2 linked regions of the Homo sapiens genome follow. The protein of the gene in region 1 binds, or shares a complex with, the protein of each later gene. Each region holds a gene or a part of one and is shown in the gene's direction. Other genes may lie near its edges. The genes, in order: ANKS3 and ANKS6.

Region 1 (14,721 bases):
TCTTGCAATTAATTTCTCATGTTATTCTGATTAACTTTAATGTGTCTGATCAGAGAGTGTTTATAATTCTTACATTTACATAACTTCCTTGTCATCTTATTTATCATCTACTGATCTATCTATATATATATATATTTTTTTCAGATGTAGTCTCACTCTGTCACCCAGGCTGGAGTGCCCAAGTGCGATCTTGACTCACTGCAACCTCTGCCTCCCAGGTTCAAGCGACTCTCCTGCCTCAGCCTCCCGAGTAGTTGGGATTCCAGGCATCTGCCACCACGCCTGGCTCATTTTTTTTTGTATTTTTAGTAGGGACAGGGTTTCACCATGTTGGCCAGGTTGGTCTTGAAGTCCTGACCTCAAGTGATCCGCCCACCTCGGCCTCCCAAAGTGCTGGGATTACAGGCGTGAGCCACCGCGCCCGGCCCTGATCAATATTTTTTAGTGTTCCGTGTTTTGCTTGAGAAGTTGTATTCTCTATTATCTGTATACAGTTTAGCATATCTGTGAGTCTATCTTATTTAGGATTATGTACTCTTAGTTCATTTTCTACAAAATTACCTATTAGCGTGTTTCTGATTTATGAAGGAAGTTGGTGCATTTTTTGGTGACAGATTTTCATAACTTGTTATAGATTCACTGTGAATTATGGCTTTTAGTATTAGAAGTGTCCTTCTGGCTGGGCATGGCCCATACCTGTAATCCGAGCACTTTGGGAGGCCAAGGCGGGCAGATCCCCTGAGGTCAGGAGTTCGAGACCAGTCCAGCCTACATGGTGAAACCTTGTCTCTACTCAAAATACACAAATTAGCCAGGCATGGTGGCACATACTTACAATCCCAGCTACTCGGGAGGCTGAGGCAGGAGAATCACTTGAACCCGGGAGGCGGAGGTTACAATGAGCCGAGATTGTGCCACTGCACTCCAGCCTAGGTGACGGAGTGAAACTCTGTTTCAAAAAAAAAAAAAAAAAAGTGTCCTTCCGTGTCATATTTAATGTGTTTTGCCCTGAATTCCACGTTGATAGCAGGATTGCAGCCCTGGCTCTTTTGTGGTTTCCATCTGCCTGTTCTTTTTAAGCTGCTCTGAGGGTGTGTTGGGTGCTGAGATTCACGCAGCTGCCGTTCCCTTGCTTATTGCTGCCTCTTTGCATTTGTCTTACAGCTCCCTCCCCTTCAGCTTGGATGGAAGCACAGTCTCCCTGGAGTGCTATAGATCTTTGAGTGTGAGGAGGTGTGTGTCCATATGGCTAGCTCAGTCGCCAGAGCTTGAGCCTCGTCATGGGGAAGGACAGAGTGGCCCACGTTCAGGGCCTGAGCTCTCCCTCTTTGCTGGCCTGCCCTGAGTTGTCCTGTCAGTTTGCACCTGAGCGAGCAGCTCCTTTCTCAGTGTCAGGCTCAGCCCAGCCTCTTCCCTGGCATTGGGATTGTTTCATAATAAACACAGCTCAGGTGGTAATGCAAAGGACCTTTCCCTTCATTTCTGCCCCAGCTTACCCACTCCACAAGGAGATCTCATCATTTCCTCCTGTATACAACTCACGTATCTCTTAAAAGTAGAATCAGATCAGAGCCTTATACAAATCAAATATGAAAAACTGAAAAGCTACAAAATAATAAAAGCTCTGGTTTGAGCTCTGAAAGCTCAGACTGGGAAGTGATTTGAAACAGTTTATAATCATAGCAAACACATGCCATGCTTTAGAAAATACAAAATTGTGGCTGGGCGCTGTGGCTCACTCCTGTGATGCCAGCACTTTGTGGGAGGCCAAGGTGGGCGGATCACAAGGTCAGGAGATCGAGACCAGCCTGGCCAACATGGTGAAACCCCGTCTCTACTAAAAATACAAAAACAAGATTAGCTGGGCATGGTGGCCGGGTGCCTGTAGTCCCAGCTACTTGGGAGCCTGAGGCAGGAGAGTGGCGTGAACCCAGGAGGTGGAGCTTGCAGTGAGCCGTGATCGCACCATTGCACTCCTGCCTGGGTGACAGAGCAAGACTCCGTCTCAAAAAAATAAAGAAAAAAAAAAGAAAATACAGAATTGCTTAATAAGTTGTTTCCAGCCGGGCACAGTGGTAACGTGCCTATAATCCCAGCACTTTGCGAGGCTGAGGTGGGTGGATCACCTGAGGTCAGGAGTTCAAGACCAGCCTAATATGATGAAACCCCATCTCTACTAAAATATAAAAATTAGCTGGGTATGGTGGCATCTGCCTATAATTCCCAACTACTCGGGAGGCTGAGATAGGAGAATTGCTTGAACCCAGGAGGCGGAAGTTCCAGCCTGGGCAGCAAGAGCAAAACTCCTTCTCAAAAGAAAAAAAAAAAAGTTGTTTCCAAAGGAAGGGATTAGGAAAAAGTAGTTGTGACTTATATTACCATATATTTTAATGAAGAGATGGGTTTTACTTATTCAAATTAGAACAGAATTTCTGATTATGAACAATACAGACTTATGAACAATTTGGCAAACCCCAACAGAGATAATAAACTCCTGGCTGGGCATGGTGGCTCATGCCTGTAATCCCAGCACTTTGGGAGGCCAAGGCAGGCAGATCAGGAGTTTGAGACCAGCCTGGCCAACATGGCAAAAGCCTGTGTCTACTGAAAAAGAAAAGAAAAAAAACACTGGGCATGGTGGCACGCATCTGTAACCGCAGCTACTTGGAAGGGTGAGGCGTGAGAATCGCTAGAACCCAGGAGGCGGAGGTTGCAGTGAGTGAGCCAAGATCATGCCATTACACTTCAGCTCGGGGGACAGAGTGAGACTCTGTCTCAAGAAAAATGAAACTTCCCATCCTCACTAACTTTGCAGCTCCCTGTGGCCCATTGGAGCAGCGCCCCGGCCTGTTAGGGCATTTCTCAGAAGTGATGCCCTGGCAGATACCCTTCTCCTTAATTTAACAAAACCGGCGACAGTCACTTTCTTTCAGTTTGCCGTAAGGATTAGTAAATGAGTCCATTACTGAACACACTATCTTAATCTTGGTGTTTGATCACAGAAAAGTACGAAGATCTGAGCTCTTCTGACGAGTCCTGCCCTGCTCCTCAGAGACAGAGGCCTTGCCGGAAGAAGGGTGTCAGCATCCACGAGGGACCGCGAGCCCTGGCCAGGATCACAGGCATTGGCCTGGGCGGCAGAGCCCCACGGCCTCGCTATGGTGAGTGGCCCGCGTTTCCCGAGGGCTCTTTCTCATTGCATACCAGGATTTTGTGTTGGCAAGAATGGAATAGCTCTTAGGCTCCTGAAATGTGGGTCGCTGGACCTCAGGTGGCAGCGGGACAGGTGGCCCAGCTTTCATGCTCAGGGAGACTCAGGATTGAGTCCTGTGATGGAAATGCATTGGTCACGGACTAGCTCTTGTTTTTTGCTTTATCTCCTGGAGTTTCCTTTTCGTTGGTTAAATTTAGGAATAGAACTTTCTCTCCTGCAGCAGAAATGTAGCTAAGGTCAGATTTCATTCATCACATAGGTGGGTTGGCTCATACAGGGAGGAGGCAAAGCGTGAAGTTCACTTCCCTGCCCTGCCCATACCAGCTGGGTCGGGTGCGCTGCTGGGGGCAGGAGGCCAAGAAAACAGGCCCTGCTGTTTTCTCAGGGCGATGAAGTTGTACTCAGACCCTCCTGAGAGAGGGCCCGCTTGTTGACTTGCTGGTGAAGAATCCTAGCCTTTGGGTTTTCCAGTCTCGTTCATTCTCAGATTCCCAGCCCCAGGGTGTTGAGCGTTTTGCTCTTGGGGAGTGCTGGGGTTTCTTTTTAGGGGAGTTGGGTTTGGTGCCTACTCTCTATTGCTGTGGTCTGTCCCAGAGCTCAGCTGGAGGTGTGAGTTATGTCTTCCTTTGATGGCTGTCACCCACTCATAGCCAGGCCAAGGCTGCTGGTCTCACAGGCCTGGTGGCTGGTCCTTCTCGGGAGCAAGGCCTCTTTGAGGCCAGGACTTGGAAGAGTGAGAGTAGACAGTGTTTCAGCCAGGGGTCCACCAGTAATTGAATTCCCTTCTAGACCCCAGGAACAAGCAGATGTGCAGACTTCTGTCTTCCCAAGCCTGGGTGCTGGGTTGGGAACTGGAGACCCACCTTCTCCCATCATCCTGGGAAGGGTGAGCTGACTGGGCCACTGGGAAGGCCTCTCTCGAGCTGCTGGCCAGCCCCACCACAGCATGAGGGCCCGCCCGTGTCCCGTCCGCTGAGCTGTGAGCACTGGCTCTGGGACACCGGGCTGGTCGTTCTGAGTGGCAGAGTCTCTTCCTTCCAAAAGGTCCCTGCCACCTGCTACAGCCTGAGGTGTGGTGGGGACAGGAAGGAAGCTGTCATCCTGGGGCTGAGTTGGTAATTAATCTATATAGCTGTACAACAAATGCTTTAACAAAATCATACATGTCTGAAGCCGCTTGTGTGCGGTTCTTTGTATGTATCCACAGAGAAGTAATCATGGTGGTGGTCTCAGGTGTGGTATTTCAGGGGATTTTTGTTTTCTCATACCTTGTGAAATTTAAATTTTCTATAAGTGCATATATTTTATTTGCCAGTAATTAAGAAATTTGGGGCCGGGCGCAGTGGCTCACGCCTGTAATCCCAGCACTTTGGGAGGCCGAGGCAGGTGGATCAAGAGATCCAGACCATCCTGGCCAACATGGTGAAATCCCATCTTTACTAAAAATGCAAAAATTAGCTGGGCATGGTAGTACGTGCCTATAATCCCAGCTACTCGGGAGGCTGAGGCAGGAGAATCGGTTGAACCCGGGAGGCGGAGGTTGCAGTGAGCCGAGATTGTGCCACTGCACTCCAGTCTGGTGACAGAGCAAGACTCCGTCTCAAAAAAAAAAAAAAAAAATTGGGGGGGCCAGGTGCAGTGGCTTATACCTGTAATCCCAGCACTTTGGAAGGCTGAGGTAGGAAGATTGCTTGGGCTCAGGAGTTGTGAGACCAGCCTGGGCAATGTAGCAAGACCCTATCTCTACAAAAAATTTTGAAAATTAGCCAGATATGGTGGCCCATGCCTGTAGCCCCAGTTACATGAGAGGCTGAGGTGGAAGGATTGCTTGAGCCCAGGAGGTCAAGGCTGTAGTGACCCATGATGGTGCCATTGCATTCCAGTCTGGATAACACAGCAAGACCCTGTCTCAAAAACAGTTTAGGGGGCAATGATAAATAGCATGTGCTGATTAGAAAAACTTCTCCATAACTAGGAAAATACGTAAAGAGGAAAGTAAGTTCCCCATGGTCCCATCAACCAGTCCTTTGGGTTCTTTTTTGAGACAGGGTTTCACTGTAGCCCAGGCTGGAGTGCAGTGGCACGATCATAGCTCACTGAAGGCTCCAGTTCCTGAGCTCAAGCGATCCTCCTGTCTCAGCCTCCCAAGTAGCTGAGATTACAGACATGTGCCACCGTGACTGGTCAAGTCAGTCTTTTTATGTAAAGGGGCAAAACTGGAGTGAAATTGCCTGGTATACATGCCCCTTTTTCTGCTTGGTTTTAGAGGCAGGTAGAGTTAGGTAATTTCATATTATTGTTGTTAATTTTTACCTCAAGGCCTTTTTCCTTCCTGCTCAGCCAGGTCTCTTTTTCGCCGGGGTTGACTGACCAGAGGAGGCCCGCTAAGCGCCTGTGGTTAAAGGTCACAGGGACATAAAGACACGTGGTCGATGGGTGTCTGTGTGAGGTCATTAGCTACCTCCTGCTAAAAGGAACACTCATGGTATAGTTTTCTCTGGTCAGGCATCTGTAAATACAGCTGACCATTTGCTACGTTTTCCCCTTGGAAAAGAAATGGAGAGGGCCCAGGCTTGACCTGGCTGCCAGCCCTCGCCCCACCAGGCACTTGCTTGGGCCACTGACTGACCCTCAGAGCATCTTTTCCACCCACACACCACAGATAGAGCCATGCCAGGTCGCAGGGGCAAGTAGGTGAGGTCATGACTGGGAAGTCACCTGCCTCCATCCTGGGCCTCGGCCTCTGAGGAGGTTTCACTTTGGAGTTCCCTGGGCTTATGGGCCCCATTCTGTACACAGAGCAGGCTCCTCCCCGTGGCTATGTCACCTTCAACAGCAGTGGCGAGAACCCCCTGGAAGAAGAGGGCCTCTGCTGCCGGGATGTCACCTCCCCCATCAATGAGCGGGATGTGGAGAGCAGCAGCAGCAGCAGCAGTCGGGGTACGTGCACCCCCACCCATCCGGCCCGTGGCTCAGGCAGGTCCTGGAGCTCCTGTGTGCCCATCCCCACTTATCCCCTGGGCCTGGCGCTGGACACAGCCATCCAGCAGAGGACAGGAAAGGGGTAGGTGTGGACGGCCCTGGTTCTTGTGAGGAATGGGAGAAGCTTCTGGTCCAGCATCCCCGTGCGGCTTAAGGGAGCCGTTCCACAGCAACAGGTTTAGCTCCTTGCTTGGGAGCCCCTGAGGCTTTCAGGGCAGGCCCCAGTAGGAATGTCTGTTATAACTGCACCTCCGTGCAGCAGCTGTTTCCATAGTGCCCACCGTGTGCCAAGCACTGCTCCGGGTGCTTGGGATTTATCAGTGAACAAAAAAGACAGAAGCCCTGCCCGTCTGTATAGAGGGGAGGGTTTAGGACAGGCAGGAAGTTTGAAATATAAGGAAGCAACCGCTGCAGGCCCCAAGGAGTGCCCTGGTGGAGGCGGCTCAGCCCGGGGCACGCCCATGCGCAGCACCTCGGTGAGGGCTGCAGGCGGACGCCCTGTCTTCCCGCCCTCAGAGGAACATGCTTTCTGTGCCAACCTGGGGCCCGTCCAGAGCAGCAGCAGCAGCGAGGGCCTGGCCAGAGCCCAGGGGCTCAGCAGCGAAGCTTCTGTGGAGAGCAACGAGGTACGGATTCTTTCTTTCTTGGTCTCCCATAGCCGGTCCCTGGCTGGGATGCCTGACATCCCCCAGTTACTTTAAGATGAGCATGTATGTAAGAAGCAGCTGCTGCACGTGTGTGCTGCACTGGGACGTGCTGTGTCCAGGGTCTGGCTTCTCAGACGACAGCGAACGCACCGGAAGCCCCTGTGTGGCGGGTGGGGGGTTTCACGAAGCCTCTCAAGCCCCTGTGTGGCGGGTGGGGGTTTCACCAAGGCTCTCAAGTTAGCCCGCGCACTCTTTCAGATGCACGCCTCTCACTGCAGGACTCGGATCATGCCTGTAAAAGCTCAGCTCGCAAACAAGCTAAAAGTTACATGAAGACCAAGAATCCTGACAGCCAGTGGCCTCCCCGCGCTGCAACTGACAGGGAAGGCTTTCTCGCTGAGTCCAGCCCCCAGACTCAGAGGGCCCCCTACTCAGGACCCCAGGTAAGACCGCTTGTGAAACTGGAGGTTACACTCAGAGACGGCACTTTTTGTGACTTAGGAGGCATGTGTTGTGTATATGACGTGCCAGGCGCTGCTAGGAGAACAGAATGGCGGTGGCATCCCCATGGCCTGTTAGGCTCCACAGGCTCACAGCCGGCTCCATGGCTGGCAGCCCCGCTGCAGCGCTTCTACTCTGTTCCTCTCCACGGAAAGGACCTGTCTCCCTGCTTTCCATACTGGAGTTGGCCTCCCTGAGCCTGGGGAGAAGAAAAGCACACTTGACCTCAGAGCTGCCTGCAGGAGTCTGACAAGATGTGGTTGAAGCAGAGACAGGAACTACACACAGTGTGTGCTTGGTGATGGTTACAGCTGCCACCATCCTCCTCCTTTCTGTGGTCCCTCTGACCACACATTACCTTAGGGATCAGAGGTGTGACTCACAGCTCAGCTGTCTCACCTGTGTCTGCTGAGTTCTCCTACCCTGTGTGGGCAGAAGAGGCACGGAGAGGAGAGGCAGAGGGAAGCTCTGGTTGGTTATTTGGTTTGTTTGTTCGAGACGGAGTCTCGCACTGTCATCTGGGCTGGAGTGCAGTGGCGCGATCTCGGCTCACTGCAACCTCCTCCTCCTGGGTTCAAGCGATTCTCCTGCCTCAGCCTCCCAAGTAGCTGGGATTACAGGCACCCGCCACCATGCCCATCTAATTTTTTGTATTTTTAGTAGAGACGGGATTTCACTATGTTGGCCAGGCTGGTCTCAAATTCCTGACATCGTGATCCGCCCGCCTCGACCTCCCAAAGTGCTGGGATTACAGGCGTGAGCCACCACACCTGGCCTGGTGCCATGCCCGGCCTGGCTGGTTATTTGTTAAAGCACTGGCTTTGCTGTTCAGTAGAGCCTTGGATTTGCCGGCTTCTCCCTGCAGCCCCTGGCTCAGTGAGCAGGCACACGTCTCGGTCCCTTCAACATACGTTGAGTGGAGTCTGGTCAGGGTAGTGTCCTAAGTATGTTTCTTTCAGAAAATAGCTTGAAGAAAATGTCAGAGTAACATTTGTTTGTCCATTAAAAGCAATAAACTCTCAAAAGTAGGATTTCTGGAGTTGAAAAGTAAATGAAATGAAAATATCACTAGACGAGCTCACAGCAGAATTGAGCAGGCAGAAGAGTCAGACAACTTGTGAACACAGGTCACCTGAGATCATCTCGCTTGAGGAACAGAAAGAATGAGTAAAAAAAATTAACAGAAATCTGTGATCCCCTCAAGCACACCGACACCACCCCATACAGTGGCATTCCAGAAGGAGAGCAGAAACGATGGGTGAGAAACAGCCTGACCATCTCAGTGGATCAGAAACACGGATCTTACATCCAGGGAGCTCGGTGAACTCCAGACAGGTGAACTCGGAGAAGAGCTGCGCTTAGACAAGTGGAAATCAGAACATCCGACACTGAGACTCTAGAATTAGAGGGCAGCGCTCTCCGCCTACAAAGCATTGTCGAGATCAGCAGCTCCATGGTCCCTTCACAGAACTGAGCATGTGTGGGAGGAGGAGGCCAGTTTCTGGTGATGAACATACATTGTCCCCACGTGGCCGACCATAGTGTGAGGACTCACCTGCCTGCAACATCCTGCCCTGCCTGAGCCACCAGAGTAGGAGGGGACAGCCTGGGCGCCACACACAAGGCACTGTCTTGGTTCTGAGCCTGGGGAAGTGGTGGGGCTCCGAGTGGAGGAAAACGTCTCTGCTTCGTCGTCAGCCACTACCTCCCCCAACCTGTCCCCTGTGCCTGCCAGGACCTTGCCGCACTGCTGGAGCAGATCGGGTGTCTGAAGTACCTGCAGGTGTTTGAGGAGCAGGACGTGGACCTCCGCATCTTTCTGACCCTCACTGAGAGCGACCTGAAGGAAATTGGCATCACGTGCGTCCAGAAGGGCCGCTCTGGCCCTCAGCCCGGGGTTGGGGCAAACTCCCACTCATGTAAGCGCTCTTGGGACGCTGAGGCATATCCTGGTCACATTCCCCCCGCAGGCTGTTTGGGCCCAAGAGGAAGATGACGTCCGCCATTGCCCGCTGGCACAGCAGTGCCCGCCCACCCGGGGATGCCCTGGAGCTGGCCTACGCCGACCGGCTGGAGGCTGAGATGCAGGAGCTCGCCATCCAGCTGCACAAGGTGAGTGGCTGGGTGGGGGATGGGGGGGCAGGGTGACACCCGTGAGTTGGCTCCATCTCTGACAGAAAAGGTGGGTGCTGTGTGGAGGGGTCAGGTGGATGCAGTGGGGAGAGGGCCCCACACACAGGACAGGGCCGTGGCCAAGGGTCTGGCTTGACCGGCCACCTCCCAGCCTCCCCGCGCCCCCCACCCCCCTGCAGCGCTGCGAGGAGGTAGAGGCCACGCGGGGCCAGGTGTGTCAGGAGCAGGAGCTGCGCGCCGTGGTGGAGAGCTGCCTGCTGGAGCAGGACCGCGCCCGCGAGGACCTCCAGGCCCGGCTGCGGGAGACGTGGGCCCTGGCCCGGGATGCTGCCCTCGTCCTGGACCAGCTGCGGTGAGTGGCTCTGAGCTGCCCTGGGCTGGGTCTCCAGTGGTCAGCCACCTGGCCCCTGGGCCCCCACACATCCTTTCCTCCTGATTTTGTAACTGAGGGGTGGATTTCAGGGTCTGGAGCCACCCCACCCCCATTTCATCAGGCCCTTCCTTCCTGCAGGCAGACCCAGGCAGGAGTTGGGTCCGGGAATCTGCACCGGTCGCCCTCCTGCTCTTTAGTGCAGCCTCATGGGGCACTGGCCCAGCCCATGAGGGCCAGCTGCAAGGACAGGGCTGAGCCCCTCCCTCCCCTAGAAGGTCTGAGGTGGGGGCTCTGCAGCGGCCAGGCCTCTGCTCTCACCAATATTTGTTTCTGTGTCTGGCAGAGCCTGTCAAGCTGAGCTGTCATCTCGAGTGAGGCAGGACCAGCCCCCTGGTGCAGCCACTCTGGGCCTAGCCGTCCCCCCAGCTGGTAAGAGCAGTGGCCTGACTCCGCACTGGGCAGAGGGGAAGGTGGGGGAGCCCTGAAGCCAGGTTTGACCCAGTGGGCTTGGCCTGGTTCTCCGGCCGGCAGCCACTCTCCCAGGTCCCTGTGTGCACATGATCCCAGAGTCCAAGGAAAAGAGGGGGCCCTGGGGACCCAAGCCCACTTCCTCACCTGTGACAGGAAAACTGCCTATCCCCCAGGGGTAGGAGGTACTCGAGAAAGGCCCTGTGCCTTGGCTGGCTGTGCTGTGCTGAGACCGCCAGTGACTTCTGTAGCCTCCAGCCAGGGCCCAGACCCGGGTCCCCACCGGCAGAGCTTTGCCTTCTCTCGGGCTGACCCGGGCCTCGTAGTGTTTGCTCAGCCTGTGGGAGGAAGGGCACAACAGGGCTTCCCTGCCTCGGCCTTGGGAGGTTGCTTAGACACTGTCAGGCGGGTAGGGAGGTTCTGATCCAAGCAGGTTCTCCTGGTTGCATGGGCTCAGAATAAAGCAGGGCCTGTGGGGACGCAGACCCCCAGCTAACTCGGTCCCTGCACCTGCACCACAGACTCCAAGGGCTGGCAAGCGTCCCTGCAGGCCATGAGCCTCCCCGAGCTCTCGGGAGCCCTGGAGGACCGTGTCCGTGAGATGGGTGAGTCTCCGGGGACCAGACGACTGAGCGCTCCTTTTGTTTCCGAGGGAGGCAAAGGGACCCCTTTCCAGGGAAAGCGGGTTTGTGTCTCTCTACCCCAAGGCTGACCTCGGGGCTGGGGCCATAACGGGTGAGGGGCAGGTCACATCCTGCAGCTGAGACCCCGGGGCAGCACCACCCAGCCCTCCTGAGCCTGGCCGGGAGAGGCTCAAGGTCATCATTCCTCAGGGCAAGCACTGTGCTTAGTGACCCAGAGCCTGGAGAAGCTGCAGGTGCTGAACGGGAAGAAGTGGCGGGAGACCTAGCCTGCGGGCCGGTGAGTGTCTGCCAGCCTGGATCCCGCGTGGTGGGAGCAGCAGGGCCTGTCTGGGCGGCTGCAGGTGTGGGTATGCACCCACCTGTCCCCCTCCCTTCTCACCGGGGCTTTTTCTTTCAGAATCTGACGTTGGGTGATTGGTCCACCCTGAAGCTGTGTGCCAGGGAGTGAGGAGGACAGTGAGCAGGTAGCTGCCATGTGCAGCCCAGGCCCAGTGGGGGCCAGAGGATCAGGCCCCGGGAGCAGCCGGCAGACAGAGGCAAGACGGGGGCTGCGGCCCTGGCTCGGCAGCTCGGGCCAGCACTGAGGCGGGACGAGGGCCTCACCCAGAACCTCGTGGTGAGGCCCAGAGTTCATGGGCTGCCCTGGCCCATACCAGGCAGGGCCCTGGGGGGAAAGTGTATCCATATACACGCACAGGTGCCAACTGAGGTGGGACCTTAGGAATGAGGACTGGGGCACCTGGAAAATGCCATTTTTTGGAAAATAAAATTTAAGAACAGCTAGTGAAGGGCTCAGTTCTGGTCACATGACATGAGGCACTGGCCAATGCAGCAACCCTGACTGCCCTGTCCTCTGCTGTTCAGGGGTGTGTCTTTTGCTCCTGGAGCCCAGACAACTCAAGATAAGGCTTTGAGAGCCAAGAACATCCCCAGCCCGCCGTAGCACAGGGCCTCCCCCGGGACATGCTGCTCTCACACCGAGCTCTGAGATGGAGCTGGGCACACTGCCTCCCTCACCGGGCCAGGCATGGGCTGTGCAAATTTTCTGACGATGCCGCTGGAGTCTTTCCAGATGTGGGGCTGTAGGAGACCACGAGGGATGGCTCTGCTGCTGTCCTTCTGCACAGTAAGCCTGCACTTCTACACCATCCCCTGGAGCTGCTTGCAGACAGTGGGGAATGGTGGGTTTGCAAAGCAAAGCAGGTCAGCCCAGGTGCAGCCAGGGCCACCAGGATCAGGAAGGGGAGCCTGCCCTGAAGGTCTCGGCCCAGACGCCCCAACCTGGCTGATGGGCACAGCATTCATGCTGGGAGTGCCCCCAGTAAACACTGGGGAACAAACGTGCCCCTGGCTGGGGCAGCTCCTCCCTCCCCCACCTAGGGCAGGGGGCCTGAGCTGGTTCCATCCAGAACCAAAACAAACACACAGGGCAGCTGAGAAACACACAGAGCAGCTGCGGAGCGACTTTATTGTCTTCTCCTTCGACAGCTTCGTTGTACATAGCTGGGCCCCCGAGGCCCTGACTGTCCCTGGGAACCAAGCCACGTGGGGTGAAGCTACTTTGAAACCTCACCCACAGTTCACACGTGGTGAAAGAGAAAATCTAGCAAAGTAAATCCAACAACAACCCAAATTAACAGTATTATTAACTTCCTACCCCAAGCTGGCTCTCCCCCAGGCCCTGAACTGGCTCAGGAAGGAGGCAGGAATGAGCTGACCGAGACAAGGCATCCTCCACCCACACATCCCATCTTCTGAGTGGTCCCAGAGCTGTGCGCCACCCCTGTGGGACAATCAGGCACTCCTGGGTCTCTACCAGCTGTGATGAGACGTACAAGAGGAGGGTCTGAGCCCAGAATAAACAAGAGCATCCTGAGGCTGGAGAGGCAGGCCCAGTGTGCCCGGACCACCCTGCTCTGCCTGAGAGGATGGGCTGGGTTCCAGCTGGCCCGGCCGCCACCTAGTGACTGCTTGGGACAGTGGAGATGATGACAGGATGCCCACTCGCCCTAGGCAGTCAGAAGCGGGGTACACACAAACACTCTAGAAGCCACACTTAGCAGGAATTCCCAGTCTTCCGGCCCAGGGGAGGGTGCCACCAGCTCAGGCAGCCCTCAAGAGGAGGCCGGGAGCAACTTCTCCAGGGCCTTCTTCTGCTTCTCGGTGGCTGCAGCCAGGGCCTCAACCAGCTTCTCCTCGGGCATCATGTTGAGCACCTTGAGGGCAAAGAGGAGCTGGCACTTAGCCGTGCTCACGAAGGCGTTGCTCAGGAAGTTGGGGAAGCCTCCGACTCGGTCCTTCTGGGTGTACAGCGGGACCCGCACGAGGCCCAGCACCTGCGCAGACAGGAGGTAGGGGTTGGGGCCAGGCCTGCCACACAATGGCACCTCCAGCAGGAGGGGCCTGGAAGCTATGAGGCCAGGGTATGAGCAGCCAGCTTTGCCAAGGACTTAATGGGAGACCCACGCAGGGCCTGGCAGAAGCCAGCCAGCTCCCTCGGAGCAGTGCAGCCCCCTCCTCCCCAAGCAAGTGTGGAGGCTGACCCCATGCACTCCCCCCCCTCGTACCCAGGCCACCCCACCCCGGGGTCCGCACCCCATGCTCCCCCCGTCCACCCAACGAAGCCTGAACACCCGCAGTCCAGCCCTTCCAGACCACAAAGTACAAATCCCAAGAGCCTTCACGCCCAACATGAGGTTCCCAAGTTTTACAACCCCCGCTGTGCTCAAGTTTCCCAACTCCCCAAGCAATCCCCGCTCCTCCCCCATCCCTTCCTCCCCACCGATCCCACTCCCCCACTCCCAGGATTGGCAATGGCAGGCAGCAAGGCGGATGTAACACAGCCCTGAGGGAGCCCCAGCGCCGGCCCCCACCCCCGCCCCTCCTTTCCCGGCCTCCCAGCCCCAGACCCCTCTCCCCACCCCATTGCTGGAGACAGCGACACCCGACCCAGCCCGGCCAGGGGACCCTCAGGAGACGTGTTACCCATCGGTGCCTTCCACGGGGCCAGAGCCAAACCCCGGGGCGGGGGGCGGGGCCCGGGCGGCGGCCCCACCTCCAGGCCGTGGTCGCGCGAGTGCACCGCGCTGATCTCCACGGCGTGCAGCTGCTCCAGCGTCAGCTGCCGCGCGTACAGGTGCGCCACGACGCGGTGTGGGCCCTCGGTCAGGTGCGAGCTCAGGTAGTCGGCCTCGGTGAGGCGCAGGCAGCCCAGGCCCAGGCCCAGCACCCGGTTCAGGCCGTCCTCCAGCGACCAGAAGCGCCGGTCCACGAAGCCCCCGGGGAAGCCCAGCAGCCCGTCGAAACGCATCTGCATCTGCAAGGGAGCGCGGGTCACAGCCGCGGGGTCGACGGACGCCCCCGCCCGGGCCCGCCCGCGCCGGCACCCTCGCCCGCGCCCTCGCCCGTCCTCACCAGCACCGAGAAGCGCATGGGGATGCGGCCGAAGAGCTGCCCAGGGTTGGCGGCGTACAGCATGGCGTGGCACGAGTGGCTCCAGCCCGGCCCTAGGCGCATCGCCTCCACCCGGCTGATCTGCTTCAGCTCCGGAACCGCCGCCGTCGACATCTTGGCACTGACCCCGTCCCCGCCGCTGCCACTTAAGAGCATGCGCGAGCCCGCCCCCGCCGTGCCTCGCCAATCCGCGGGCGGCCGCGCCCCCGGGTCCGGTTCCCCCGCCAATCGCCGGCGCGCCCCGGGACCGAGCCCCTCGCAGCGCCGCGGTGCGTCGTCGAGAGGTGCTGCGGGCGGTGTGCAAAG
Region 2 (15,322 bases), on another chromosome or scaffold:
TTGGCAAGGATGTGAAAAAACACTCTCATCCACTGTTGGTAGGAATGCAAACTAGTATAACCTTTTGGAAAGCAATTAGGCAACATTTATTAGAAATGTTAATATTAACATCTTTTTGATTTTGCAATTCCACATCTAGGAATCTATCCAACAAACATAGACTCGTAAGTGCTCAAAAGATATGCATACAAGGAAGCTTATGGCAGTATTGTATATAAAAGCAAAAAGTTGGAAACAATCCAAATTTCCATCAAGAGATTATAAAATAAAATATTGCACATCCGTACAATACCATAATATACCACAGTGCTATTTGCAAGCATGAGTTAGTTGTAGGCATTTAACATACACATGTGTTCAAGATGCATTGTAAAGAAAAGAGAAGCAAGTCGTGGAGCTATATGAATAGTATGATCCTATTTTTGTAAAATAATATATATTAACATATGAAAGGGGAAAAAATCTAAAGGAATATTTACCAAACCATTAACTATATTATATTTACTTCTGATGGGTGAGATTCTGTGGTCCTTTCACTTTTGTTCCATTTATTTGTTTTTTTTTCAACAAATATTTATTGATCACCTACCATCTGGGAGTCAGTGTGCTAGATTCTGGGGATTTGAGGTAAACAATATCCAAAGCCATTGATCTCAAGGAGTTTACATTCTATATTTCTACAACATCAGAATTCTTTAAAACAATCGTTACCTTATTAGGAAAAAAAAGACATTTAAAGTAAATATTGTACTCTTTCGAGATTATTTTACTTCTAAGCCTTCCTTATCTCCTGCCTAATCCACTCTGTCAGTCTGTGGTCCTCCTGTCCCCCTGCTCTCTCCTTCCAATATGTTTCCTCCTTTTTCCTACAACGACCTAGACCCCACCCATCATTTCTGCCCAACTTGTAGCCAAGCTCTGCCATGAAGCTGTCAGTGGCATCCTCCAAACTGTGACATCTTCCTTTGAATTGACGATGAAAACTCATAGACCCCACTGTTCTGCAGTCATGTGGGATTTCCTGGGAGCCATGAGGCCATGTTTCTATCATTCAACACACATAATGCCTAGCACACAGAAGGTATTTAGTAAATGCTGGCTGAGCCTGGTACCGTGGCACACACCTATAGTCCCAGCTACTCAGGAGGCTGAGGCAGAAAGATCACTGGAGCCCAGGAATTTGAAGCTGCAGTGCACCACGATGGTGTCTGTGAATAGCCTCTACACTCCAGCCTGGGCAATAAAGCAAGATACCATGCCTAAAAAATTCAAAATTAAGAAAAAATTTTAATTTAAAAAAGTTGGTTGAAAGGAATTGTGTTGGAAATGAGGTGCATTGCTCAGATTACCCTTTGGGAGAAACTTTTAGGGGAAACACGGTTGACTGCCAGCTCCCAGTGGCTATGCCTTTGGATCCTTTGTGGTATCCTCTGGCTACTCCCAGTCAGTGACCGAGCATGGTGTGGTACCAGAACCTGGCCACATCTGCATGATATAGGACACAACCCGTGCTTGGGAATCCCCCATCTGCCTGGCTGAGACTTTCCCTCGTCACTTCCCATTCTCCTTTCTCAAGTATCAGACCTGCATCATGGTCTGAGGGCTCCCCATCCCTTTTCCCCGACTTTCCCCTTTCCCTCTTTTTTTTTTTTTTTTTTTTGAGACGGAGTCTCACTCTGTCGCCCAGGCTGGAGTGCAGAGGTGTGATCTCTGCTCACTGCAACCTCCGCCTCCCAGGTTCCAGCGATTCTCATGCCTCAGCCTACCAAGTAGCTGGGATTAAAGGCACGCACCACCACACCTGGCTAATTTTTTTGGTATTGTAGTATAGATGGGGTTTCACCATGTTGGCCAGGCTGGTCTCAAACTCCTGACCTCAAGTGGTCCACCCATCTCGGCCTCCCAAAATGCTGGGATTACACACTTTCCCTCTTTGTCCTTTGTAGGTATTTTTCCCAGAAAACAAACAAACAAACAAACATCTAGGCATCTGATTCTTAGAGGATCCAAACCAACACAGGGACCAATGGAAAAAAAAAAAGGCTGGAAGAGAATTCATAAACAATAAGGCTATAGCTATACTTGCATAGAAAGATGTGCTGGATCTGTGCTTCACAAACTTTAATGTATGGTATGGTGAGTCACCTGGGGATCCTGTTGAAATGCTAGATCTGGTTAAGCAGGTCTGGTGTGGGCCCAAGATGCCACATTTCTAACAAGCTCCCTGGTGATACCAGTGCTGCTGGTCCAAGAACCCCAGATTGAGCAGCAAGGTGCTAGACATCGTCCATTTGTCCCTGCTGTTTCTCTTCACCCTGTTCTGTGCCCTGGAAGGCTGACTGCATGAACTATATCAGCAGGCTCCAAGACTCTAGCTTCCAGTAGGGTTTACTAATGAGGAGCACTGGCAGGAGATCAGAGGGCAGGAGGAGAGTGAGGTCAGAGGTTTTTATTCCTCTGAGGATAGCTCCCTACTGAGTTGCTGTGGGTTGGCTCTGTCCCTCTACCAAAGGCTGTAGCTCCTATCAGGTAGGTCTCTGCAATTTTTCTCTCTTGCAGAATTCCAGTACCTGCTCTCCCCTTTTCCCCTTCAGGCCTGGGATGGTAACAGCTCTGTACTATTACCAGCCCTGGAGTACTGCACCATCCCTTGTGGCTCTTAGTAAATCCTGCCTATACTTCTGTAAATGGTCCTTTAGTAAGCATTCCCCAGCTCCTCAGCCAAGTGTGCCATCTGTTTCCTGGTGGGACCCTGGCTGCTACAAGCGCTGTCCAATGCAGTATTTTTTATAAGAGCAGAAAACTGGAAACAAGCTAACTGTGCTTGTTTCTGTTTGTTTGTTTGTTTGTTTGTTTGAGAGTCTTGCTCTGTCACCCAGGCTGGAGTACAGTGGTGCAGTCTCAGCTCACTGTAACCTCTGCCTCTCAGGTTCAAGCGATTCTCGTGCCTCGGCCACCTAGGTAGCTGGGATTACAGGCATGTGCCACCACACCTGGCTATTTTTTTTTGTATTAGAGATGGGATTTCACCATGTTGGCCAGGCTGGTCTTGAACTCCTGGTCTCAAGCAATCCACCCCCCTTAACCTCCCAAAGTGCTGGGATTACAGGCATGAACCGCCATACTCGGCCTCAACTGTGCCTTATTCTAAAATGATTAAATGGGCTGGGAACAGTGGTTCATGCCTGTAATCCCAGCACTTTGGGAGGCCGAGGCGGGTGGATCACTTGAGGTCAGGAGTTCAAGACCAGCCTGGCCAACATGGCAAAACCCCGTCTCTACTAAAAATACAAAAATTAGCTTGGTGTGGTGGCGGGCATCTGTGATCCCAGCTACTCCATAGACTAAGGCAGGAGAATCGCTTGAACTCAGGAGGCAGAGGTTTCAGTGAGCCAAGATTGCACCACTGCACTCTAGCCTGGATGACAGAGTGAGACTCCATTTCAAAAAATATAAAATAGAAATAAAAATTAAATGATTAAATAAATTATGGTACGTCTGCTGAATGGTGTTTCATGCTATCATTTATTTATTTATTAAAATTTTTTTGGAGATGGAGTCTCGCTCTGTCGCTCAGGCTGGAGTGCAGTGGTGTGATCTCGGCTCACTGCAACCTCCACCTCCCAGGTTCAAGCAATTCTTCTGCCTCAGCCTCCCAAGTAGCTGGGACTACAGGCACATGCCACCATGCCTGGCTAATTTTTTTGTATTTTTAGTAGAGACAGGGTTTCACCGTGTTGCCCAGGCTGGTTTCAAACTCCTGAGCTCAGGCAATCCGACTGCCTCAGCCTCCCAAAGTGCTAGGATTGATTACAGGTATGAGCCACATCGCCGGGCCGCAATCATTTTTTTAAAATGCAGCAGTCTGTATTTACCTACATGGAAAGGTGCCCAAGACATTTGTTAATGGAAAAAGAAAAAAAAAAGCAAGATTCAAGAATAGCATGCGTAGTATGAACCCATTCATTTACAAAAAAAGTAAATTATCCATTTGTTAAGGCTTGGAATGCAAGTGACAACAATGCTGCTCAAAATAAACCTCACCAAAAAGAATGTGGGGAGGGATTTTCTAACTTAGTCTCTTTCTATCACTTGGTTTTGCTTTCTTTTGTGGTGACTTCACTCTTAGGCAGGCTGTCTTCAAGTGGTGGCAAAGTGAGCACCAGTTTGGCTGACATCCTGATAGCTGGCAACCTCAGCAGAGAGGGCCTCATTCTCAATTGCTTTAGCAAAAATCCTGGGCTGGGCTGGGCACAGTGGCTCATGCCTGTAATCCCAGCACTTTGGGAGGCTGAGGGAGGAAGATCACTTGAGGTCAGGAGTTTGAGGCCAGCCTGGACAACGTGGTGAAACCCCGTACCTACTAAAAATACAAAAATTAGCCGGGCATGGTGGTGGGTGCCTGTAATCCCAGCTACTCGGGAGGCTAACGCAGAGAATCACTTGAACCCAGGAGACAGAGGTTGCAGTTTGTGGGGTGCAATTGTGCCGCTGAACCTCAGCCTGGGAGAGAGAGTGGGACTCCGTCTCAAAAAAAAAAAAGTCCTGGGCTGAAGCCAATCAGGATATGTGCTAACCACTGAAGCACACAGACTGTGAGTAGGGAAGAAAGGCTTCCCAAAAGAAAAAGGGTGTCCAGAGGGAATATTTCATAGCAAACACTTGTTATCGTTTTTGACTGCCCAGCATCTGAACCCCCTTCCTACATTTGGGAGTGCCCTACCTTCTGAAGCAGAAACTACCTCCCGCTATTATATGAGCACATGACCCAAGTTGGGCCAGTCAGGCACTGTCACCTCAGCCTCTGAATCTGAAGCCAGGAACACCAAAAAGGGCCTGAACCAACCCCATCTTCCTACAGGGTGCAGCTGCGGCATGAGATTTGGGTCATTGTTCCTGGCTTTGGGGCCTCCAGAACTGGTTCTCAGGCTCTCATGGATCTGTGAGCTACAGAAGAACCTTGTACTAAATCCTGCAGCTTTTCCAGCACCTAAAACAGTGTCTGGAAATGGCAGGCACTCAATACATATTTGTTGAAAATGGAAAGAGAGTTGGACTCGATGTCAGAAGACCTGAGTCCTACTCACAGCTCTCCTGCAGAATAGTTGTGGAGTCTTTGGCAAGACACAACCTCTTTGTGCCTCGGTTGCCTCCTCTGCAACCTAGGGATGATCATCTGGGCCCTCCCCGGTGGATGGCAGGCGTGCAATGAAGATCAAACGTGGGTCTCCAACTTTAGCATGCATCAGAATCACCCAGAGGGCTTGTTAAAATATAGGTTGCTGAACCCACACCCAGAATTTCTGATTCAGTAGATCTTGGGTAGGGCCAGAAAAATCTGCGTTTGTAACAGTGTTGCAGCTGGTGATGGTGCTACTGCTGTGTGGGACACACTTCAAGGACCGCTGATAAAGAGAGAGAAGGTATTTCATTTTCTTTGTGACCATTGTAAATGAGGTTGTGTTCTTAATTTTGTTCTCAGCTAGAATGTTATTGGCATATCAAACTGCTATTGCTTTTTATACATTGATTTTCTGTCCTGAAACTTTACTGAATTTGTTTATCATTTCCAGGAGCCTTTTGGCAAACTCTGTAGGGTTTTCTATGTATAGATTCATACTCTCCGCAAAGACAGAGTGTTCGACTTTTTCTTTTCCTATTTGAATGCCTTTTATTTCTTTCTCTTACCTGGTTGTCTGGCTAGGACTTCCAGTACTATGTTGAATAGGAGTGGTGAGAGTCTTCTTCCAGCTTTTGCCTGTTTAATATGATGTTGGCTATGGGTTTGTCATAGATGGCTGTTATTATTTTGAGGTATGTTCCTTCAATGCCTAATCTGTTTTGAAGATTTTTATTATAAAGGGATGTTGGATTTTATTGAAGGCCTTTTCTGCATCTATTGAGATGATTATATGGTTTTTGTTTTTGATTCTGTTTATATGGTGAATCACATGTATTGATTTGCGCATGTTGAGCCAACCTTGCATTCCAGAAATAAAGCCTACTTGATCATGGTGAATTGACTTTTTGATGTGCTGCTGGATTCTGTTTGTAGTATGTCATTGAGGATTTTTGCAGCTATGTTTTTCAGGAATATTGGCCTGAAGTTTTCTTTTTTTCGTTGTGTCTCTGCAAAGGGCATGAACAGACACTTCTCAAAAGAAGACATACAGGCAGCCAACAAACATATGAAACAAATGCGCAACATCATTAATCATCAGAGAAATGCAAATCAAAACCACAATGAGATATCATCTACACCAGTCAGAATGTCAATTATTAAAAAGTCAAAAAACAATAGGTGCTGCTAAGGCTGTGGAGAAAATACACTGTTGGTGGGAATGCAAACTAGTTCAGCCACCGTGGAAAGCAGTTTGGAGATTTCTCAAAGAACTTAAAATAGAACTATTTGACCCAGCAAACCTACTACCAGGTATATACCCAAAGGAAAATAATTCATTCTATCAAAAAGACACCTGTATATTCATTGCAGTGCCATTTACAATAGCAAGGGTATGGAATCAACCTAAGTGCCCATCAACAGTAGATTGGATAAAGAACATGTGGTACAGAGCCAGATGTGATGGCTCACACCTGTAATCCTGGCACTTTGGGAGGCCACAGCAGGTGAATCACTTGAGCTCAGGACTTTGAGACCAGCCGGACAACATGGTAAAACCCTTTCTCAACCAAAAATACAAAAAATTAGCCGGGTGTGGTGGCACTTGCCTGCAGTCCTAGCTACTCGGTAGGCTGAGGTGGGAGGATTGCTTGAGCCTGGGAGGCAGAGGTTGTGGTGAGTAGAGATTGCACCATTGCACTCCAGCCTGGATGACAGAGCAAGACCCTGTCAAAAGAGAGAGAGAGAGAGAGAGAGAGAGGGAGAAAGGGAGGGAGGGAGGGAGGAAGGAAGGGGGATAGGGAGGGAGGGAGGGAAGAGAGGGAAGGAATGAAAGAAATGTGGTGCATATACACGATAGAATATGATGGAATACTACGGAATACTATGCAGCCATAAGAATGAACGAAATCATGCCCTTTGCAGCAACATGGATAAAGCTGGAGGCCATTATCCTAAGCGACCTAAAAAGAACAGAAAACCAAATACTGCATGTTCTCACTTATAAGTGGGAGCTAAACATTGAGTACACATGGACACAAAGATGGGAACAACAAACGCTGGGGATCGCTAGGCCAGGGAGGGATGGAGGGGACTCTGGGCTGAAGAACCTCTTGGTGGGTATTATGCTTACTGCCTGGGTGACGGGATCGTTGGGACCACAAGCTTCAGCGTCGCGCAATTTACCCATGTAACAATTTACCCATGTAACAAACCTGTACCCTTTAATCTATAATAATAGTTGAAATAAAAGGTGGGGGAGAGAGAGAGAACAGGAGGCGCTTTTAGCCCCAGCAGCCTGGCCCAGATGAAGGAGCGACATTAAGGGCACCGCAGGACACTGTGAGGAAACAATCCGTTCGTTCCTTAATTCAGCCGCTTCCTTATTCTAGAAGGGCAGGTTCAGTGCCAGGGGCTGCGGTGGGGTCAGCGGAGCCCGCTAGTAAAGTCAAGGCCCACGCAGCTGCGGACTCAGACCCGGGCCCAGGGCCCTGACCACAGCGTGAAGAGGGGATGGCGTGGCCGCTCCCACCTCTGCCCTGACAGGAAGTTTCTGGAGCCCCGGGACAGGGCGGCGAGAGGGCGCCGAAGAGGCAAAAGGGAACACGCGGGTCTGCGGCGGGCGCTCCTCTGAGCGTCCCTGGACTCCCGAATACGGGCACTGGAGGTGCGCAGCCCCGGCCCTAGCGCGCTCCCGGCACACAGCAGGCGCGCGGCCCTAGCCCCGGCGCGCTCCCGGCACACAGTAGGCGCGCGGCGCGGGCGGGTGGCCGGAAGGGGGCGCCTGCGGGCGGTATCCGGGGGCGGAGCCGACGCGGCCGGCGGGGCGGACGGGAGCGGGCCGCGCGTGGCGGCGGCGATGGGCGAGGGCGGGCTGCCCCCGGCCTTCCAGCTGCTGCTGCGCGCGTGTGACCAGGGCGACACGGAGACGGCGCGGCGGCTGCTGGAGCCGGGGGCGGCGGAGCCAGCCGAGCGCGGCGCGGAGCCGGAGGCGGGCGCGGAGCCGGCGGGGGCCGAGGTGGCCGGGCCCGGGGCCGCAGCGGCGGGGGCAGTCGGGGCTCCGGTGCCCGTGGATTGCTCGGACGAGGCGGGCAACACCGCACTGCAGTTCGCCGCGGCCGGGGGCCACGAACCGCTGGTGCGCTTCCTGCTGCGCCGCGGTGCCTCGGTCAACAGCCGCAACCACTACGGCTGGAGCGCGCTCATGCAGGCGGCCAGGTGAGGCGGCGGGGCCCGGGGGCCCGGGACCAGAGTGGTGCCCGGCGCTGGCCCGAGACGCGGTCCCCGGCGGCCGGATGCCCCGGGAGGTGAAGAGTTAAGGACTCCTTAGAGTTGGAATGGTAAACTTTGAGTAGTCTTTTGTAAACTTTGAGCATAGACGTGGAAACACTTTTGAATTAACATAAAATCAGATTCTTAGAAATTTTGGCCTTTCAGAATAGAATCTGGAGACAGCGAATAGAATTGTAGAGACTTAGAACCTTAGAGATTTAATTCATTTCTTATTGCAGTAAGAGTTTCCTCAGAACCTGCCTTCCCTTCCTGGCTTGGCGTTGAGGGTGCTGCGAGACCCAGGCAGAGTCCCCACCCAGGGCATTGGTGGGCAGGCCAGGCAAAGGAACGAGCTTGACCGGAAAGGTTTGAGTAGCTGTGGGGCAGGTGACCCATTTTGGAGACGTGGGGGAAGGTTTCTGGTAGAAAAGATGTTTATATCCACGTGGAGACCTGCGGATACCTGAGAATTAGCCAGGACATTACAAGTGGGCTGTGGGAAGGCATGATGGGAGGCCCATGCAAAGGCTTGGGTGCACGAGCTGGTAGGACTGGTAGAATGAGGTATGCGTAGAATGTATGAGTAGAATGATGTACTAGTCCTCCCTGGAGAGAAGGCAGATGCCAGGGAGTTGGGGGAGTGTGGGAGCTGAGAAACGCTAGCTATCCTAGGGTGCTAGGGAGTCATGGAAGGTGCTAGGGAGTCATGGAAGGTTCTAGGCAGAATGAGTGACAGGATGAGAGTTACGTTTTGGAAAAATTACTTTCCTTGAAGTGTGAGAATAGATTAGATACTCTAGGGTAAGCTAGAGTCAAAAAGGCTGGTTAGGTAGAGTTTGCTGCAGTCTGAGTGAGAGGTGATGGTGGCCTAGACCAGAATGGAGACAGCGGAGGGAGGGCACCCAGATGAATTTGTGATATATTCAGGGAGTAGATCAGCAGGAGTTGACGACTGGCCCTTGGGGAGGGGTTAAGAGAGACAGCAAGGATGGCATCTAGAGATCTGGCTTCTGTGAAGCCTGCCATGATATCTCCCTGTTCTCTGGTCCCTCCGCAGCAGAAAGGCCTCTGTGGTAGCATCCATCACACCATGTTAATGCTGACTGGCTTCCTCAGTACCCAAACCTGGCCACACATCAGAATCACCAGGATGCTTGTCTAAGTGCAGATTCCTGAGTTCCTTTTCTGGAGATTGTGATTTAGAAGGCCCAGGGCAGTGAGGGGAGTAAGAGACAGGGACTCTGTGTGAGAAGAGGCTCCCCAGTGATTCTCTTGTATGGTAGGTTTGGGAGCCACTGATGTGTTATGTGTGTCTCATCTCTGCAATCCACCAAGTGCGTGCACAGGGGCCCTGGTGAGCCCCCTGAGGAATTTACTGAGTGAGGTTTGTGACTACAGCACTGACATGCCTCAGAGTGTCTCAGAGACCCCAGATCATCAGTTTTAACCAAGTTCTGCAGGATAGTCTTGAGCCTGGGTATTTTAAAATGTGCTGTTCCTCAGTTGGTGTGACACCGACTCTATATTCAGGTAGCATCTCTGCCTGTGTTGAGTTGTGCTCCAGCTTTCTGCTGCGTAATTCATAAGAAAAGGTCAAGTTGAGGAGTAGTATATATGGAAGACTTCCAGAAGGATGTACAGTGTGTCTGTCCCTCACATCGGGGTAGGCAAATGAATGGCCTGTGTGCTGACACCTTCCAGCCTTGTGCTCTTCTTCCTTGGATCTGGATACGCCCCCAGAATCCTGCTCAAAACCACACCCCTGGCAGCCACCACGCTGGGTCTGAGCAAGCATCTATTTATCGTCCCAGCTCTCTGTGTGGATCAGGCCAGACTATTAGACACCCTGTGCCTTTGGTCTTTTGTGGGTGTTTTAGTATTAGAAATGGTGACCTTAGTGTTTTTTCCTGTTCTTTTTTTTTTTTTTTTTGAGACGGAGTCTCGCTCTGTCACCAGGCTGGAGTGCAGTGGCGTGATCTCGACTCACTGCAACCTCCGCCTCCTGGGTTCAAGCGATTCTCCTGTCTCAGCCTCCGGAGTAGCTGGGATTACAGTCACGTGCCACCACGCCCAGCTACTTTTTGTATTTTTAGTAGAGACCGGGTTTCACTGTGTTGGCCAGGCTGGTCTCAATCTCCTGATTTCGTGAAACGCCCACCTCGGCCTCCCAAAGTGCTGCGATTACAGGCGTGAGCCACCGCGCTGGGGCATGTTTTTTCATGTTCTTAAAATAATAGGTAACCTTTGGCCAGGTGCGGTGGCTCACGCCTGTAATCCCAGCACTTTGGGAGGCCGAGGCGGGCAGATCAGGAGGTCAGGAGATCGAGACCAGCCTGGCCAACATAGTGAAACCCTGTCTCTACTAAAAATACAAAAATTAGCTGGGCGTGGTGGCACGGGCATGGTGGCACGCACCTGTAGTCCCAGCTACTCGGGAGGCTGAGGCAGGAGAATCGCTTGAACCTGGGAGGCGGAGGTTGCAGTAAGCTGAGATCGCGCCACTGCACTCCAGCCTGGCGACAGAGCGAGACTCCATCTCAAAAAACCAGAACAAAACAAAACAAAAAACAACCTTTATTGAGCACTGACTTTCTGTCAAGCACTGTGCTAAGTGCTTTAAATGAATTAAGTCATTCAATCCATACAAAACCTTAGGAAGGAGGTACTATTGTCATCCTCATTTCATAAATGAGGAATTGAGGAACAGAGAAGTTAAATAACTTGCTCAAGTAACATAGCTACCAAGTGGCGAGTCAGATTCACACCTAGGGAGGTGGCTCCAGAGCCTGTGCTCCCAGCCATGAATCCTGTAACTGATAGTTTCCCTCTTGGTGTTGGTGCCTGGAAGCGGCTTGCCAAATTTGCCAGAGACTTCTCTCCAAGGGACAGGGTTGCATAGTGTTTACCTTCCTTCCCTACCCTTCATTTCCTGCCTGCCAGTGGGGCAGAGCTGGACTCTCAGCCCAGTGCTTTGAGAGGGGAAAATGTGTGCCAGCTCTTTAAACACAGGTGTTAATTGCTGAAATTCATCAGTAATCACAGCACCTGTTCAGAAAGCCCCTAGCATGCCCATCTCCGGCAGTTACCTATTAGAAACTTAGCATCCACAACATTATCTCAGCCTTGCTTGGATCCTTTTATATTTTCAGCATAGTTGAGTGCTCTCTTGGGCTACTCACTAATTCAGAAAACATTCCAAATTTCACTATTTCTGCTCTAATTCACCCCTTTTCTTCCTCCTTAAAAATTGGTTATACTGGAGCTTCGATTTTGAGTCCAGGTGCAACTTTTGACTCTATCACGTTCAAATTGAGAGGCTTTAGATTAATTGCTTTCCACTGTAATCTTCAGTTTCCTAATCTGTGAGTTTATCTCGGGGTTTATTAAGATCAAATGAGATAAAAATGTGACGCACCTTGTAATCTGCTGTTAGGGATTATGCTAGATTTTATCTCATGCTTGATAACTAAATAGTGTAATCTTTTAGAAATGTACTACAGTGGAGGATACACCAGTTCTTCAGGGATTTCCACTGCTCACCTCTGGACCTTCCCCTATGTGGTTATGCCATTTATGCATTCATTTACTTGGCTTGTTTGACCAAATTTACTGAGCTCCGATGTGGATCAGCCACTATGGTAGGGGCTGGGGAAACAATATGCGTGGAACCCTGTCCTGTCCTTGGAGAGCCTGCCACTGAATAGGAGAGACAATTAGGGAAAGAGGGCTCACGTGCAGCCAGAGGCGAGCCCGTGGAATTAGGTGCTCAGAAGAGGGGCACTGACCTAGCCTGGTTGAGGGGTGGTCTGGAAGCTGCTCAGAGTGGGTGAGATATGACTCCTGAAGCAGGACACGGTGGGGGTGTGCTGAGTAGATGAGGACAGGAGAGTCCTCTGGTGGGGTCAGGATGGTGAAGGTGTGGGGAAGGCGGGAAGGTGTGGTTTGGGAGCAGGAGGAAGTGAGGTTGGCAAAGCAGTCAGGTCTTCGGCAATCAGAAGCTGGGGAGTGACAGATTTGGGTTTGGAGAATATCATTTGGGAGTCGCATGGAGGATGGGCAGGAGGGAACGAGACTGGAGGCGGGGAGACATTGGGGTGCAGCTTTCTGCATTGAGTTGGTTTCAATTTGCCTTGTCCTTTTCCACTCTGGGAGTGGAGGTCAAGAGGCCCAGCCCCCTGCAGCTGATGGAGCTGTGTCACCAGGCTCTTGCTTCGTGGCTGAGTAGCCCCATGCTGTTCAGGTTCACATCCCAGAAGGTATTCAGCCGGAGCCTCAGACAGAGTTCAGCCCTGGCCTGGCCGCCAGCCGCCAGGAGGAGGGAGGTCTTGGGTTTAGATGAGGTGCAAAACTGGCTCCCGGGAAGGAGGGCTGAGCATCGAGAAACCCAGAAAGCTGCCTCACAGATGCAGACATGACAGTGGCTTTGTGGTCTCGAAAACCTGGAGTAGACAGCCCCTGTCTTGTCATTGTTTTCTTGTTAGTCCAGGGCCGCTTCCAGCTTGGAGATACACAGCTCCGAGCCCACCAGAGACACCACAAAACAGAACTTTTCTGCCCTCTGGTGTTAAAAGAAGGAAGAGATTTTGCTGGGAAGAGGTACCTGTTTTCCTTCTCCTGGTACTAGGAAGTTGGTGGGTGCAGATCTTTCTCTTCAGGGGCCCAGCAGTGACTTCATTGAGGAAGATCTGGCCTAGGCTGGGTCCTCAGCCGCCTGCAACAAACATTCCTGCCAGCAGGTGGCAGCAGGCCTCCAGGCCGCAATGCCCAGCCTATCTGCTGACCACAACCTTGCCACACCTCTTGGCATGGGGTGTGTGCTTTTGGGGATGGGGAGGGTAGAAATGAATCAGACATGGGCTCTGCCTGTGGGGAAATTAGAGCACAGGCAGAGAGACAGATTCCCAGGCTATAAAGCAGAATAAAATCGACTGTCTGAAATGTAGGAGGCAGCATGGTGTAAGAGAAAAAGCAAGGGCAGCGGCATTCACACAGACCTGTCCTGACCCTGATGCCACCCCTTACCAGCCGGGTAACCCTTGGCACGTTGAATAACGTAACATGAACAATTATAATACCTAACAATCGCTAACATTGATGTGATGTTTCCTGTGGCCAGGCACAGAGCCAGGTGCTTTACATGTAACTCATTTAATCCCCAACAACCCTTGAAGTAGGTACAGTTATATCCCCATTTTGCAGATCAGGAAATGAAGGCACAAAGAAATCAAAGTTCTTCCTAAAGGTCATGCAGCTGGTGGTGGGGAGAGCTGGATTTGAACCCAGGCAGGGCAGCTGCTCACCTTCATGATGATGCATCTGCATCCATGTGGCTGGCACAGTGCCTGGCGCCAGAATAAGACCTCTTATCATGAGCAGCTGTCAGGACTAATAATTCATGCCAATTAAGGATGACATAAGCTGGCCCCCGAGTGCTGTGTGTTCAGTGTCACTAATTCTCCATCTTCCTGGCAGATTTGGGCATGTGAGTGTGGCACACCTCCTGTTGGATCACGGGGCTGATGTCAATGCCCAGAACCGGCTGGGGGCCAGTGTGCTCACTGTGGCTTCTCGGGGCGGCCACCTGGGTGTGGTGAAGCTGCTCCTGGAAGCCGGTGCCTTTGTGGACCATCACCACCCTTCAGGCGAGCAACTGGGGTTGGGCGGCAGCAGGGATGAGCCCTTGGACATCACAGCCCTGATGGCTGCCATCCAGCACGGGCACGAGGCCGTGGTGCGTCTACTGATGGAGTGGGGCGCGGACCCCAACCACGCAGCCCGGACCGTGGGCTGGAGCCCGCTGATGCTGGCCGCACTCACTGGGCGGCTTGGAGTGGCCCAGCAGCTGGTGGAGAAGGGCGCCAACCCTGACCACCTCAGCGTGCTGGAGAAGACCGCCTTCGAGGTTGCACTGGACTGCAAGCACAGGGACCTTGTAGACTACCTGGACCCGCTGACCACCGTCAGGCCCAAAACAGGTCAGGCTGCATGCCCCCCGTGGCTTCACAGAGGACCCCAAATTGTGTTTATGTGGCTTAAGCTGAGGATTGCTCTACTGGAAGGACACGCAGAACTCAGAGTCCAGCCCTGCAGACCACTGAGACTGAGGAAGTGGTGTGCTTAAGTATCGGGGGGATTGCCTGTGACATGCAGGTTCTGGGCCCACTCTCTGCAGAGTGATTTGGTAGCCCTGGGCAAGAGCCTGGAAGCCTCTATAACAAGGCTGCTCTCCCCAAGCACATCATTCTGATGCAGGTGGTTCTGGGGCCCTTCTACAACAAGGTTTGGCAAACTTTTTCTGTAAAAGGCCAAATAGACTGTATGGACCATACAGTCTCTGTTAAAACTACAGTAGTCACTTCTGCTAGAGTGAAAGCAGCCTTACATATGTAATGAGTAAATGAATGGGTGTGGCTATGCATATAATATGTAAATGAGTCAGGTATGGCTAGGTTCCAATAAATTATAACTACAAAAACAAGCAGTGGGATATATTTGAGCCATGGGCTATAGTTTGCCAGCCCTTGTTCTACAATAGTGTGCCTGACCTCCTCTGCCCTGATCATTTCTCAAACACTAGTTCATGTAAAATTGATGAAAATTAGTTTTTTAAAAAACATCTAGCAGTGCATCTTTTTTTTTTTTTTTTTTTTAACTTCTTGCCATCTCTCTGGCATGTAAAGAGTTGTCTAAACAATCCTTAGCAAATCTGCCATAGGACATACCACGTTTCAAAACCTTTAATGCACGGTTTGCAATAAGATCGCAACACACAGCCTTGGTACCCTCTGTCTATGTAAAAGGCCTGACTTCGACGGCAGGACTCACAGCCAGGGAGTAACAGTAGGTGGGCTGCAGTGTATATAAACATCTAGCTCTGAGAGGTCAAGCACTGAAGAAAGTAGCTTCAGGCACATTGGCTAAAAAGACCTG

What was found.
Region 2: the proteins of ANKS3 (region 1) and ANKS6 are in contact, whole or in part, in a crystal structure (PDB 4NL9), measured with the Homo sapiens proteins. Residues at the interface, in NP_597707.1 of Homo sapiens: Lys441 (codon at 9,116), Tyr442 (codon at 9,119), Thr470 (codon at 9,203), Leu471 (codon at 9,316), Phe472 (codon at 9,319), Gly473 (codon at 9,322), Pro474 (codon at 9,325), Arg476 (codon at 9,331), Lys477 (codon at 9,334), Arg484 (codon at 9,355); in NP_775822.3 of Homo sapiens: Glu796, Gln797, Glu798, Val799, Asp800, Glu802, Ala803, Thr806, Leu807, Asp811, Glu814, Leu815.

The regions. Positions count from the first base shown.
Region 1 is NC_000016.10:4,693,535-4,708,255, reverse strand, and holds the end of ANKS3 (ankyrin repeat and SAM domain-containing protein 3), read left to right. Parts: intron 1-3,002; coding exon 3,003-3,161; intron 3,162-6,013; coding exon 6,014-6,154; intron 6,155-6,712; coding exon 6,713-6,822; intron 6,823-7,121; coding exon 7,122-7,286; intron 7,287-9,079; coding exon 9,080-9,204; intron 9,205-9,314; coding exon 9,315-9,456; intron 9,457-9,656; coding exon 9,657-9,829; intron 9,830-10,193; coding exon 10,194-10,279; intron 10,280-10,839; coding exon 10,840-10,923; intron 10,924-11,151; coding exon 11,152-11,228; 3' UTR 11,229-11,239; intron 11,240-11,359; 3' UTR 11,360-11,745; downstream 11,746-14,721. Other genes in the region: NUDT16L1 (tudor-interacting repair regulator protein), read right to left, coding at 13,688-14,278, 14,377-14,571. UniProt on the Homo sapiens protein: May be involved in vasopressin signaling in the kidney.
Region 2 is NC_000009.12:98,789,149-98,804,470, reverse strand, and holds the start of ANKS6 (ankyrin repeat and SAM domain-containing protein 6), read left to right. Parts: upstream 1-7,915; 5' UTR 7,916-7,979; coding exon 7,980-8,338; intron 8,339-13,864; coding exon 13,865-14,367; intron 14,368-15,322.